2 separate regions of the Homo sapiens genome follow, and region 2 is linked to region 1. The links come from fine-mapping of genetic effects on gene expression. A gene starts in region 1. The other region holds a variant in brackets. All regions are shown on one strand. Distances are from middle to middle. Region 1 holds the start of SEC24A (SEC24 homolog A, COPII component). Region 2 overlaps PCBD2 (pterin-4 alpha-carbinolamine dehydratase 2).

Region 1 (5,380 bases):
GCACTTTGGGATGCCAGGGTGGGCGGATCATTATGAGGTTTGGAGTTCAAGACCAGCCTGGCCAACATGGTGAAACCCCATCTCTACTAAAAATACAAAAATTAGCCGGTTGTGGTGGCACAGGCCTGTAATCCCAGCTACTCGGGAGGCTGAGGCACGAGAATCACTTGAACCTGAGACATGGAGGTTGCAGTGAGCCGAGATCGAGCCATTGTACTCCAGCCTGGGCAACAGAGTGAAACTCTGACTCAAAAAATAATAATAAAATATATACATTATATATATATATTATATACTTATATAAAAAATGGGGCCTGGTGGTATGCACCTGTAGTTCTAGCTACTGGGGAGGCTGAGGTGTGAGGATTGCTTGAGCCCAGGAGTGACAGTGAGTTGTGATCCTGCCACTGCACTCCAGCTTGAGGGACAGTTTAAGTAAGATCCTGTCTCAAAAAAAAAAAAAAGGCAAAATACAAAAAACCTGTAGAGGCCAGGCACAGTGGCTCATGCCTGTAATCCCAGCACTTTGGGAGACCAAGGTGGGTGGATCACTAGAGGTCAGGAGTTTGACATCAGCCTGACCAGCATGGTGAAACCCCGTCTCTACTAAAAATATAAAAATTAGCTGGGTGTGGTGACACGTGCCTGTAATCCCAGCTACTTCAGAGGCTGAGGCAGGAGAATTGCTTGAACCTGGGAGGAGGAGGTTGCAGTGAGCCGAGATAGCGCCATTGCACTCCAGCCTGGGAGACAAAAGCAAAACTCCGTCTCAAAAAACAAACAAACAAACAAACAAACAAAAAACCCTGTAGAAATGGAACTTATAAAAAGACTATGAAAATTATATTTTAAAAAAGAGGTCTGGGTACCGTGGATCAGGCCTGTAATTACAGCACTTTGGAAGGTTAAGGAGGCAGGAGAATCGCTTGAACCCAGGAATCAGAGGTTGCAGTGAGCCAAGATCACCACCACTGCACTCCAGCCTGGGCAACAGAACAAGACTCCATCTCAAAAAAAAAAAAAAAGATGTGGAACAAATGTCTGTTGGACTGTATCAAATCAACATAGTGACAGTATCTCTAATACAGCATACCACAGTGGTCAAATCCCTTTAACATTTCAATATTATGACAACTACACTCATATATAAATGTTGAAGCACATTTGAGGATTTGTCATTTAAAGTTAATGTAAAACTGCAATTTATAGATTATAAGAAAAATCCATAGCCATGTAACATTTTTTCTCATCCTCAGTGTAAATGTTACTAAATATTCTAGAATAAAATGTAGTGTACATAATCTGTTACCATAATTTTGAGAAAGAATGGTTAACTCAGTACCCTTTCAGTGGCTTTCCTCCACTTATTCTTTCTTCTGCCCACATAGTTGCCTACTCACAGACATTTTTAAAAGTCTTTTAGAGCCATCTTTGTAAAGAAAACAGCGGTCTTCTCTAAAAACAATGTAAATTAGAGATTTTAGTCACTGTCTGTATTCTCCAACTTCACAGAACTCTTAGACTCTAATGGGCAACTTAAGTTCTTTAGCATTATTCTACTAGTCTTATTTCTGTAAACCAAAGATTTGTAAGTAAATTGGTAAGTAGGCAATCTGTCGGCAGAAAGTCTTTGTCTATTGTAACAACTGAAATAATCTTAGCAAATCACAATGTAGGACGATTTAAGGAATCCTAGAAGAGGTATAAAATTATAAGACATTCTCACATCAAATGACAAACTATAATGTACATGTAGACTCTTGTCAGAGATTCAGAGAGTTGTGTCCACCCACTTTCCAAATGCTGTCCAGACATCTAGAAGTCAACCAGGAGATCCTCCCTTCTATTTGGTTTTTCCACAGCTGAAACATTGAACAGCTGTTGTAGGTACAATTCTGGGAAGGTTCTGGGAGAGATGAGTAGGCCCTAAAGGGGTGTCCCAAAAGCATGCATTCATCTCCAGAAACTCAGACTGAGTACGACCCCCACCCCACTTCAGGGCCTGCGGAACCCAGAAGAATCAGACCCCACATCCTGCTCTCTAGGAGACTGGGGTGAGGTGGCAAGGAAGGCGAAGGCACACAAACACTATGATCCTTATATTCGAGTTTTGAGGCATTTTCTCACCCGTGTTTCACCCAGGGCGTTGCATACAGCAGGTGCTCATTTACTGTTTTGGTGACCGACTAAATAAATGTGAAAGACTGAGACGAGCCTGGGGCTACAGGTGCACAACTGCCGTGGTCCCCTGGCCCAGCCGCCCACCACCATCCGCGCCAGAACCCGGTAAGGAGGTCACTCTCTCTATCTATGTCGCCTCAAGCAGCAGTGGCACGCAAAGGTCAGTCAGCCCTGGCCAGGCTGCGCCCTCCCCCCGGACAGCACTCACCGTTGGTGTAGGGAGACCCCGAGGCCAAGGCGGCTCCGTTCTGGGCCTGGAGGCTGGCTGGGGCGCCGCCGGAGGCCGGTATTCCCGGCTGGGACATGATGACTGGGTTGGAAGGGGCTGGTCGGGGTCGACAACAGCGCACAAGAAGAGAGCTGAAAGACCACTGCTGAAAGCGGAGGGAGGAGGCTAACGACTTAAGACTGAAGACTGGGAGAAGAGGGGGGGGCGCATTAAGCCCGAGGCATGGCGCCGCACTCTCCCCAGGCCACCGGCGGCCACAGCCTAGCCTGGGAGCTGAGGCTTGAGAGTCGGGCCGGCGGGGCCGCGAACGCCCGGCTAGAAGGCGGCAGCCAAACCTAGAGAGAAGGAGGGAGGCCCTGGCCGGAAGTGCCTGTCAGCCGCCGGCCGCGCAGCCGCAATCAGGACACGTGGCACTTCCGGCTCCGGGCTCGCAGCAGCCGCCGCCGCGCCGGCGAACTCTTCTCTGCCAGCCGGGCTGCCCCGAGGCCACCTGACAGCTCCTGGTGCCCCGACCCCGACGACCGTGCCCGGCCTCGCCGCCACGTCACCGACTCTCACGGCCGGCCGGAAGTGCCGTGTGTCACCGCTACGGAAATTCCCGCCGTTGTGAACGTGACCTCGCTCGCAGAGCCAGGATCGTGGGGCAATCTGAGATTCAGTAGCCGCTTTCGTGGGGTGGGACTGACAGTTCCTCTCCTCGGGTTTTGTGAAGATTACCTGAGACCATAGAAGTCATCGTCCTCTGTTGAGACCGTACCACCACTGGGAGCTGGGGCGGTTAATGTTCATCGCAGTATTTCATTCACATTTCGTCTTCGTGTTTCAGATGTAAATTATAAGGGGTTTTAAAAAGAGGTGGTTAAATATGTGTACATGTTAATAGTGTGATCAAGCCAAGAAGGAGGCCTTTGTCTTTGACTGGAGGACTCAGAGGAATTTTAATTTTGAAACTCGCTGATTCACAGCATAGTCACGCTCAAGTTCATTAGCACATTTAAATGGCAGTTTTGTTTCCTCTTCTAAGAGTTTACAGTAAGGTAAAGAACTCAAACTTCCTTTCAGAGCAAGTAGACTTTTTTTTTTTTTGCAAGTTGACTTTTTTGACTTTTGAAGCCAAAGGGAGGTCGAAACTGCGGTGATTGGACAACATAGTTAATTAATGATTGAGTAATCATCTTAGCTGCCTTCATTCTATTTAGGTTTTTCCTGCTCTGTGCTGACGATAAAGCCCTCCTTTACAGATTTGTACTGTGGATTAAAATGTCATGCCACGCGGTTTCGAAACCTCAGTGTGAAGTACATCTTACCTAATTCATTTAATACCAAATGCCTGCTATGAAGTGTTATATTACATACAAAAAAAAGCCAGATCTAAACCACTGTGTCGGGCTGGGCAAGGTGGCTCACTCCTGTAATCCAAGCACTTTGGGAGGCTGAGACAGAAGGATTACTTGAGGCCAGGAGTTTGAGACCAGTCTGGACAACAGGGAGAGTCCCCTTATCTCTATTTAAAAAATATATATATATATATATTTTTGAGACAGAGTCTTGGTCTGTTGCCCAGGCTGGAGTGCAGTGGTGCCATCTCCGCTCACTGCAACCTCCGCCTCCTGGGTTCAAGCAATTCTCCTGCCTCAGTCTCCCGAGTAGCTGGGATTACAGGCTCCTGCCACCATGCCTGGCTAATTTTTGTATTTTTAGTAGAGACAGGGTTTCACCATGTTGGCCAGGCTGGTCTTGAACACCTGACCTCAGTTGATCCACCCGCCTCAGCCTCCCAAAGTGCTGGGATTACAGGCGTAAGCCACCATGCCCAGCCAATGTTTTTAATTAAATAAATTTTTAAAAAGTGGCCAGTGTGGTGGCACATCCCTGTAGTCCCAGCTACTCAGGAGGCTGATGTGGGAGGATCACCTGAACCCAGGAGTTCGAGGCTACAGTGAGCTGTGATCTCACCACTGCACTCCAGCCTGCATGACAGAGTGAGATCTTGTCTCTAAGAAAAGAAAAAGAATAAACCACTGTGTCAGGCCTAAAAAAGGTCAGTAAAAATTCAAATAACTAAATACTAAATTTTATACTAACCCTGTTTTCATCATTTGCCTCAGAACTTTACTAAAAATGTATTTGCTCGGGCGTGGTAGCTTACAACTGTAATCCCAGCACTTTGGGAGGCCAAGGCGGGCGGATTACCTGAGGTCAGGAGTTCAAAACCAGCCTGGCCAACATGGTGAAACTCTGTCTCTACTGAAAATACAAAAATTAGCCAGGTGTGGTGGCACATGCCTGTAATCCCAGCTACTCAGGAGGATGAGGCAGGAGAATTGCTTGAACCCAGGAGACGGAGGTTGCTGTGAGCCAAGATTGTGCCACTGCACTCCAGCCTGGCTGACACAGCAAGACTGTCTCAAAAAATAAAAAATAAAAATAAATAAATATTTGCTGTAAGTAGCATTTAACAATTCAATTCCTTTGTACAAGATCCAAGTACAATAACTTTTTTTTTTTTTTTGAGACAGTCTGTTGTCCAGGCTGGAGTGCAGTGGTGCAGTCACAGCTCATTGCTGCCTCAACCTCCTGGGCTCAAGCAGTCCTCCAGCCTCAGCCTCCTGAGTAGCTGGAACTACAGGTGTGTGCCATTATGCCTGGCTAGGTTTTTATTTGTTTGTTTGTTTGTTTGTTTGTTTTTGTAAAGAGAAGGTCTTGCAAGAGATCCTCCTGCCTCATCCTTCCAAAATGAGATTACAGGTTTGAGCCACCACGCCCAGTTAAAATCTTAAGATGAAGATGATACTTTTGGTCAAATTGTTTACAGTTTGGAGCCACTATAACAAAATCCCAAGTTATAGATCCAAAAACACTTTAAAATTGCACAGACACAAGCCTCTCAATGTTTTGAAGAGGAAATAGAGCTCAGAGAGAAACAACCTTTCTGAGGTCAGACAAAATCAGGGTCACTCTTCAAAGAGG
Region 2 (5,380 bases), 280 kb before region 1:
GTCTTCAAACCCAAACCACTCCTGTTTAGGCAGATGCAGTGGCGCAGTCAGGCACGGGCAGCAGAGTCAACAGTTACATTTAAACCAGCAAAAGCAAAATGCTTCATAATTTACAACAACCCAATCAGATTGCTCATTCTTTTGAGGTTAAATGCTACTGACATAAGCTACACCTGAATCCAATCAGTGCAGAAACATTGAGAAGATTCACACGAAAGGACTAAATTTGTCACAAATGGGTTGGTTTCCGATCTTAATGTAGCCAAGTTGCTTTACTCTGACCTCCATTGAACAAATCAACTTAATGGGCACTAGGAGTGCTATAAAACTTAACAATGGAGTGATTTTTAACTTTTAAAATATAGTTATGAAGCAAAATGTTGGATAGCTTCTACAATACTGGAAATCAAATTAAATCTAGATGTTTTTTAACAGTCTTGACAGATATAATCCTAGTTACCATGTAAATTTATGGTAAGCTGCTGTGATATTAGCCACAGGTGCTACTTTTAATATATGAGCCGCATCTGGCTGGGAATAGAATTTCTCAGAGGACTGAAAATGACCTCACTATCAGACAATGGAAGGGAAAAAAACAAGACCACTGTGGCATATAAAAAGCTGAAGATGTGGTCCACAACTAAATATTTCACATAAAATTCATTTTAACTCTGCAGTTGTAGGTTAAAGGATATTATGCCTTCAATATTTAAGAGGCATAGATGTATTTCAACCAAAAAGCCGAAAGATTAAGAATGTAAGACAGTTATGAATACCGTGGCTACAAATATAATACTAGTTTTCCAATCTTTGATCAATGTCAGAAAAAATGATGCACTAAGACTTGAAAAGAGAATTATTTCATGGTTCCCAAGCACACGACCTGATTAGACACCACGGAGCATACCAAACCATGATGTAACAATTACTGATCTCTAAGCAGCAGCCACTCTCCAGCACCTGCCCAACATTACTGGTTGTGTTGTAAAAGTTCTTTGGGGTCATTCATCGGGCCCAAGAAAACATTTTCACCAAGTGAAATTTTTTTTTTTAAAATCATTATAAGTAATTAATTACCATTCTGAGTTTGAGAACCAGCAATATCACCCAGAGACAAATACAAAGGGGAAAGTACATGTCCCTTACTTATCCAATTCAAAAATAAAAACACAAATATGTATAAAACATGGAATTGTTTGCTTTCAGGAAACCCTTCCTGAACCACTCGAAAGCCATCATTTGCCACAGAACTAGCAAGTGTGGAAATGTGATAGAGGATTTACAAAGATTTAATTTCCTATGAAATAACTCTTCCTGAATTAAACAAGCCTTCTTTATCCGAAAAAACTCTCTAAAAGAGAAATATTTCTGTGAAAATATTTCCTACACCATTGCACTAAGCTGTGAGAATGGTGGCTACAAAGCCCTATAACATAACATTTTCCTTCTGGCTGTCTCAAGTAACTTGAAGGGCTTGATTTTTTAGCTTCAATGGATCAATTCTATCTAGGTGATGATTTCTATTTACTTTTTTAACAGGTGACTGGATCTATTCCTGATCTCAATGGGCATGGAGATCCTGAGTATATTTAGCAAGAACTACCCAGTACAGCTCCCTGACACTTTTGTGTCCAACTGACAGCATTAATACGGAGCATTTAGAAAAGGTGGGCTCACAAAGCCTCTTCTGTGAGGATGGTTACCGTAGAAAGGGATTGGCTAAATTAAATATGGCTTTTTTGTTCAATGGAATAATTTATATATCTCCCACCATTCAAAATCGTGTGGTAAGCCAGCTGCAGTGGCTCATGCCTACAGTCCCAGAACTTTGGGAGGCTGAGGTGGGTGGACTGCTTGAACCCAGGAGTTCAAGACCAGCCTGCGCAATATGGCAAAACCCAGTCTCTACAAAAAATACAAAAATTAGCCGGGTGTGGTGGCGCATGCCTGTAGTCCCAGCTACTCAGGAGGCTGAGGTAGGAGGATCATCTGAGCCCAGAAGATAGAGGCTGCAGTGAGCCAAGATGGCACTACTGAATCCTGCATAGGTGACACAGTGAGACCCTGTCTCAAAAAACAAAACAAAAAATCATGAGGTAAAATATTTTACTGATGTGAAAATATTCACTATACATGAAATGAAAGAAGCAACTGACCAAAAATATCTATAATATGATCCCAAATATATATACATACATAAACATTCACACAAATGCACATTCACAGCGTTTTTAAGTGAGCAGAAAGATTACAGGTATATTTTTCTTCTTTATACTTTTCTGTTTTCCAAATTATAAAACATATTATGCAATCATAAAAAAAAATTTATTTACCAGCTGAACATGCCACTCAAATGTTAACAGGAGGGTATCATTCCTATTAGAATGAGAGGCCTGGTGGATGTGGATCTCTGTGGAGTATGAGT[G/A]ACCTATAAATGTTAAACCCTTCTATTTAAAGCTCACAGTTTTAAACACATAGAAAAATGGAAGAGACTCACCCACAAGCTTACATAACAGAATCATAGTTTAAGAAACTCCGAATTGGCCAGGTGTGGTGACTCTCGCCTGTAATCACAGCACTTTGGGAGGCCAAGATGGGAGGATCGCTTGAGGCCAGGAATTCAAGACCAGCCTGGGCAACATAGTGAGATCCCATCTCCACAAAAAAAAGTAAAATTAAAAAATTTGCCAGGGGTGGGCATGGTGGCTCACATCTATAATCCCTGCCTGAGAAGGCAGGGGGGATCACTTGAGGTCAGGAGTTCAAGACCAGCCTGGCCAACATGGTGAATCCATGTTGCTACTAAAAATACAAAAATTAGCTGAGCGTGGTGGCGCATCCCTGTAATCCCAGCTACTTGAGAGGCTGAAGCAGGAGAATTGCTTGAACCCAGGAGACGGAGGTTGCAGTGAGCTGAGATCGCACCACTGCATTCCAGCCTGGGTGACAGAGCAAGACTACAACTCAAATAAAAAAAAAAATTAGCCAGGCAATGTGGCATGCATCTATAGTCCCAGCTACTCAGGAGGCGGAGGTAGGAGGATCGCTTGAGCCCAGTAATTTGAGGCTACAGTAAGCTACGATCACGTCGCTGCACTCCAATCTAAGCAACAGAGACCCCATCTCTTAAAAAATAATAAAAAGAAACAAAAAAAAATTGTTTAAAGAAACTCAGAATTAAAATGGCCCTCTCTTCTATGCATCTGTATCCACAGCTATACGGTTAGTGGCTTCGATGTTTATCTTCTGTATGCAGAGTTCCACTTCTCCAAATAAAGTTTTCAGCTGCTCTCTGCAGACCTATCTGGAAGTGACTTTCCCCTCTAGATAGATGCTCACCTCCAATCTGTAACAGACTTAGAACTGATCATTGATCAATCCAGTATTATAAACTAATGCTTTCAGGGTAGGGCATAGGGAACCATGTAGCAATTTACAAGTCAAATTCCTTTCAGTAGCTGGCAATCTTTTTCTTCAAAACATGCAAATAACATACGCCTCCTTTAAGCACTCCAAAATAAACATTTCTTCCTAAACAGAACAGATTCAATTCTGAATAGCAGAGTTGCCCATTCAAAGCTCTAAGACATTCCTAAACAAAACTGCAATCCATATCCTTTGTTATTCTACAATTCTTCAAAATACAGACTTGTGTTAAGAGAAGAGCAGTCACCTTAGGGTGGGATATCTGGCCTTGGAATGATGGTCCCACTGCCCACTTCCTCTGGAAGTTTGAGCAAGCTCTTTAACTTCCCTGACTTTTCCACCATTAGCAAAATGGGAATACGAACACCTAACCTTAGGAGGCTTCTGGGAAGCTTCAATGAAACAACCTATGTTAGTTCATAGGTCACCTAACAATGAGCTACTATACCCAATAGACACTCAAACACTCATTAGTTCATAAAATACTTTGTAACCCTCTAATCTGTCACAAAGAAAACTGATTTGGCTGCATTTCAGGTAAATGATGCAATATTAAGAGTTACCTGTGTACAGAATGACCTTAAAGCAACATTTTTATATCCAAATTTCTAAAATTAATTCCTCAAATTACTGCCAATATATTTTAGCTTTTCTTTATAGCACACCACCAAGTTATGATTCAAAAAAAAGAAAAAGAAGGCCGGCGCGGTGGCCAAAGTGCTGGGAGGCCAAGGCAGGCAGATTACGAGGTCAGGAGATCGAGACCATCCTGGCTAACACGGTGAAACCCTGTCTTTACTAAAAATAAAAAAAAATTAGCCGGGCATGGTGGTGGGTGCCTGTAGTCCCAGCTACTCGGTAGGCTGAGGTGGGAGAATGGCGTGAACCTGGGAGGTGAAGGTTGCAGTGAGCCACGATCATGCCACTGCATTCCAGCGTGGGCAACAGAGCAAGACTCTGTCTCAAAAAACAAAAAGAAAAAGAAAAATCAGCCAAGAACGCTGGACCAGTGGTCACAGAAAAGGAAAGGGAAAGAAAGAATTTGAGATTAAAGAATTGTCTTGAAACAGAAATGAATGCCTAATGGATAGCCAGCGAACAGGCCTGTGGCAGCCTCCCAGTGTGGTATTTGGTCGAGTATCTGCCACTGGCCCTCAGGACATCAATATTCTCATCCGATTGTGGCTGTAGTTGTGGGTGGCTGAAACCGTGGTGCTAAAATACTGAATGCCAGTCTTAGTCTCTCTCATGGTTGGAGACAACTGACTAGAGACACCATGAGCAGCCATTTTCTTCTCTGATGTCTCAGTACTGCATGCAGAACAAAGGCACAATCAATGCTGCTGTTCTGGGAAGCACCCTGTGGCAATGCAGAGCACCCTCTCTCATCTCTCAGACACAGCAACTTAGCAGCCAGATAAGCTGGTCACCATTAGGAATCATCGATATCTAGGAGTAAGGAGATGAGGGAGAGGAAAAGTCCCTGGTGAGAAAGGGTTGTATGTATCCTACAGGGAACAAAAAGATGAAACACTATGTTCCCCTGGGACTAAGTGCACTGACTAGGATCACCCATGGGGAACCTAATCATGGGCCCTCATGCATTCAAAATACAACTAGGTAACCCTGGGCTAGGTACTATGGGAGATGTACACAGGTACAATCCAAGTCTCTGTCCTCAAGCTGCTTATACCTTAGCTGGAGAGAGACATGAGTAAACAGTTACATGACCCTGTTCATAATCTAAGTTGCATTTAGTCTTGTCCTAACTTTGCCACTAGTTCGTTGTCACCCTGGGCAAACTACATTACCCCTGGGCTTCAGTTGCCCCATCCTTTCTAGCTCTAATATTGATAGGCCCTATATCAAAGCTCTAAGATGCTTAATTAATATCAAAACAAGGCTGGGCTGGGAACGATGGCTCATGCCTGTAATCCCAATACTTTGAGAGGGT

Evidence for each region. PIP is the estimated chance that this variant, and not a neighbour inherited with it, causes the effect. A credible set is the group of variants that fine-mapping cannot tell apart.
Region 2: its variant is the best candidate, but not a certain one, in a credible set for the expression of SEC24A in whole blood (INTERVAL, PIP 0.54).

What each region holds. Positions count from the first base shown.
Region 1 is chr5:134,646,183-134,651,562 of GRCh38, reverse strand. SEC24A (SEC24 homolog A, COPII component) reads right to left here and starts at 2,778. Exons shown (of 23, transcript NM_021982.3): 1 at 2,390-2,778. The coding sequence starts at 2,486. RefSeq lists enhancers at 2,593-3,130, 2,878-3,167, 3,178-3,237.
Region 2 is chr5:134,929,946-134,935,325 of GRCh38, reverse strand. All of the region lies in intron 2 of PCBD2 (pterin-4 alpha-carbinolamine dehydratase 2), which reads right to left. Among named protein-coding and RNA genes, the nearest start is that of PCBD2, 28 kb to the right of the region's middle. The variant G/A (reference allele first, on the strand shown) is at 2,426.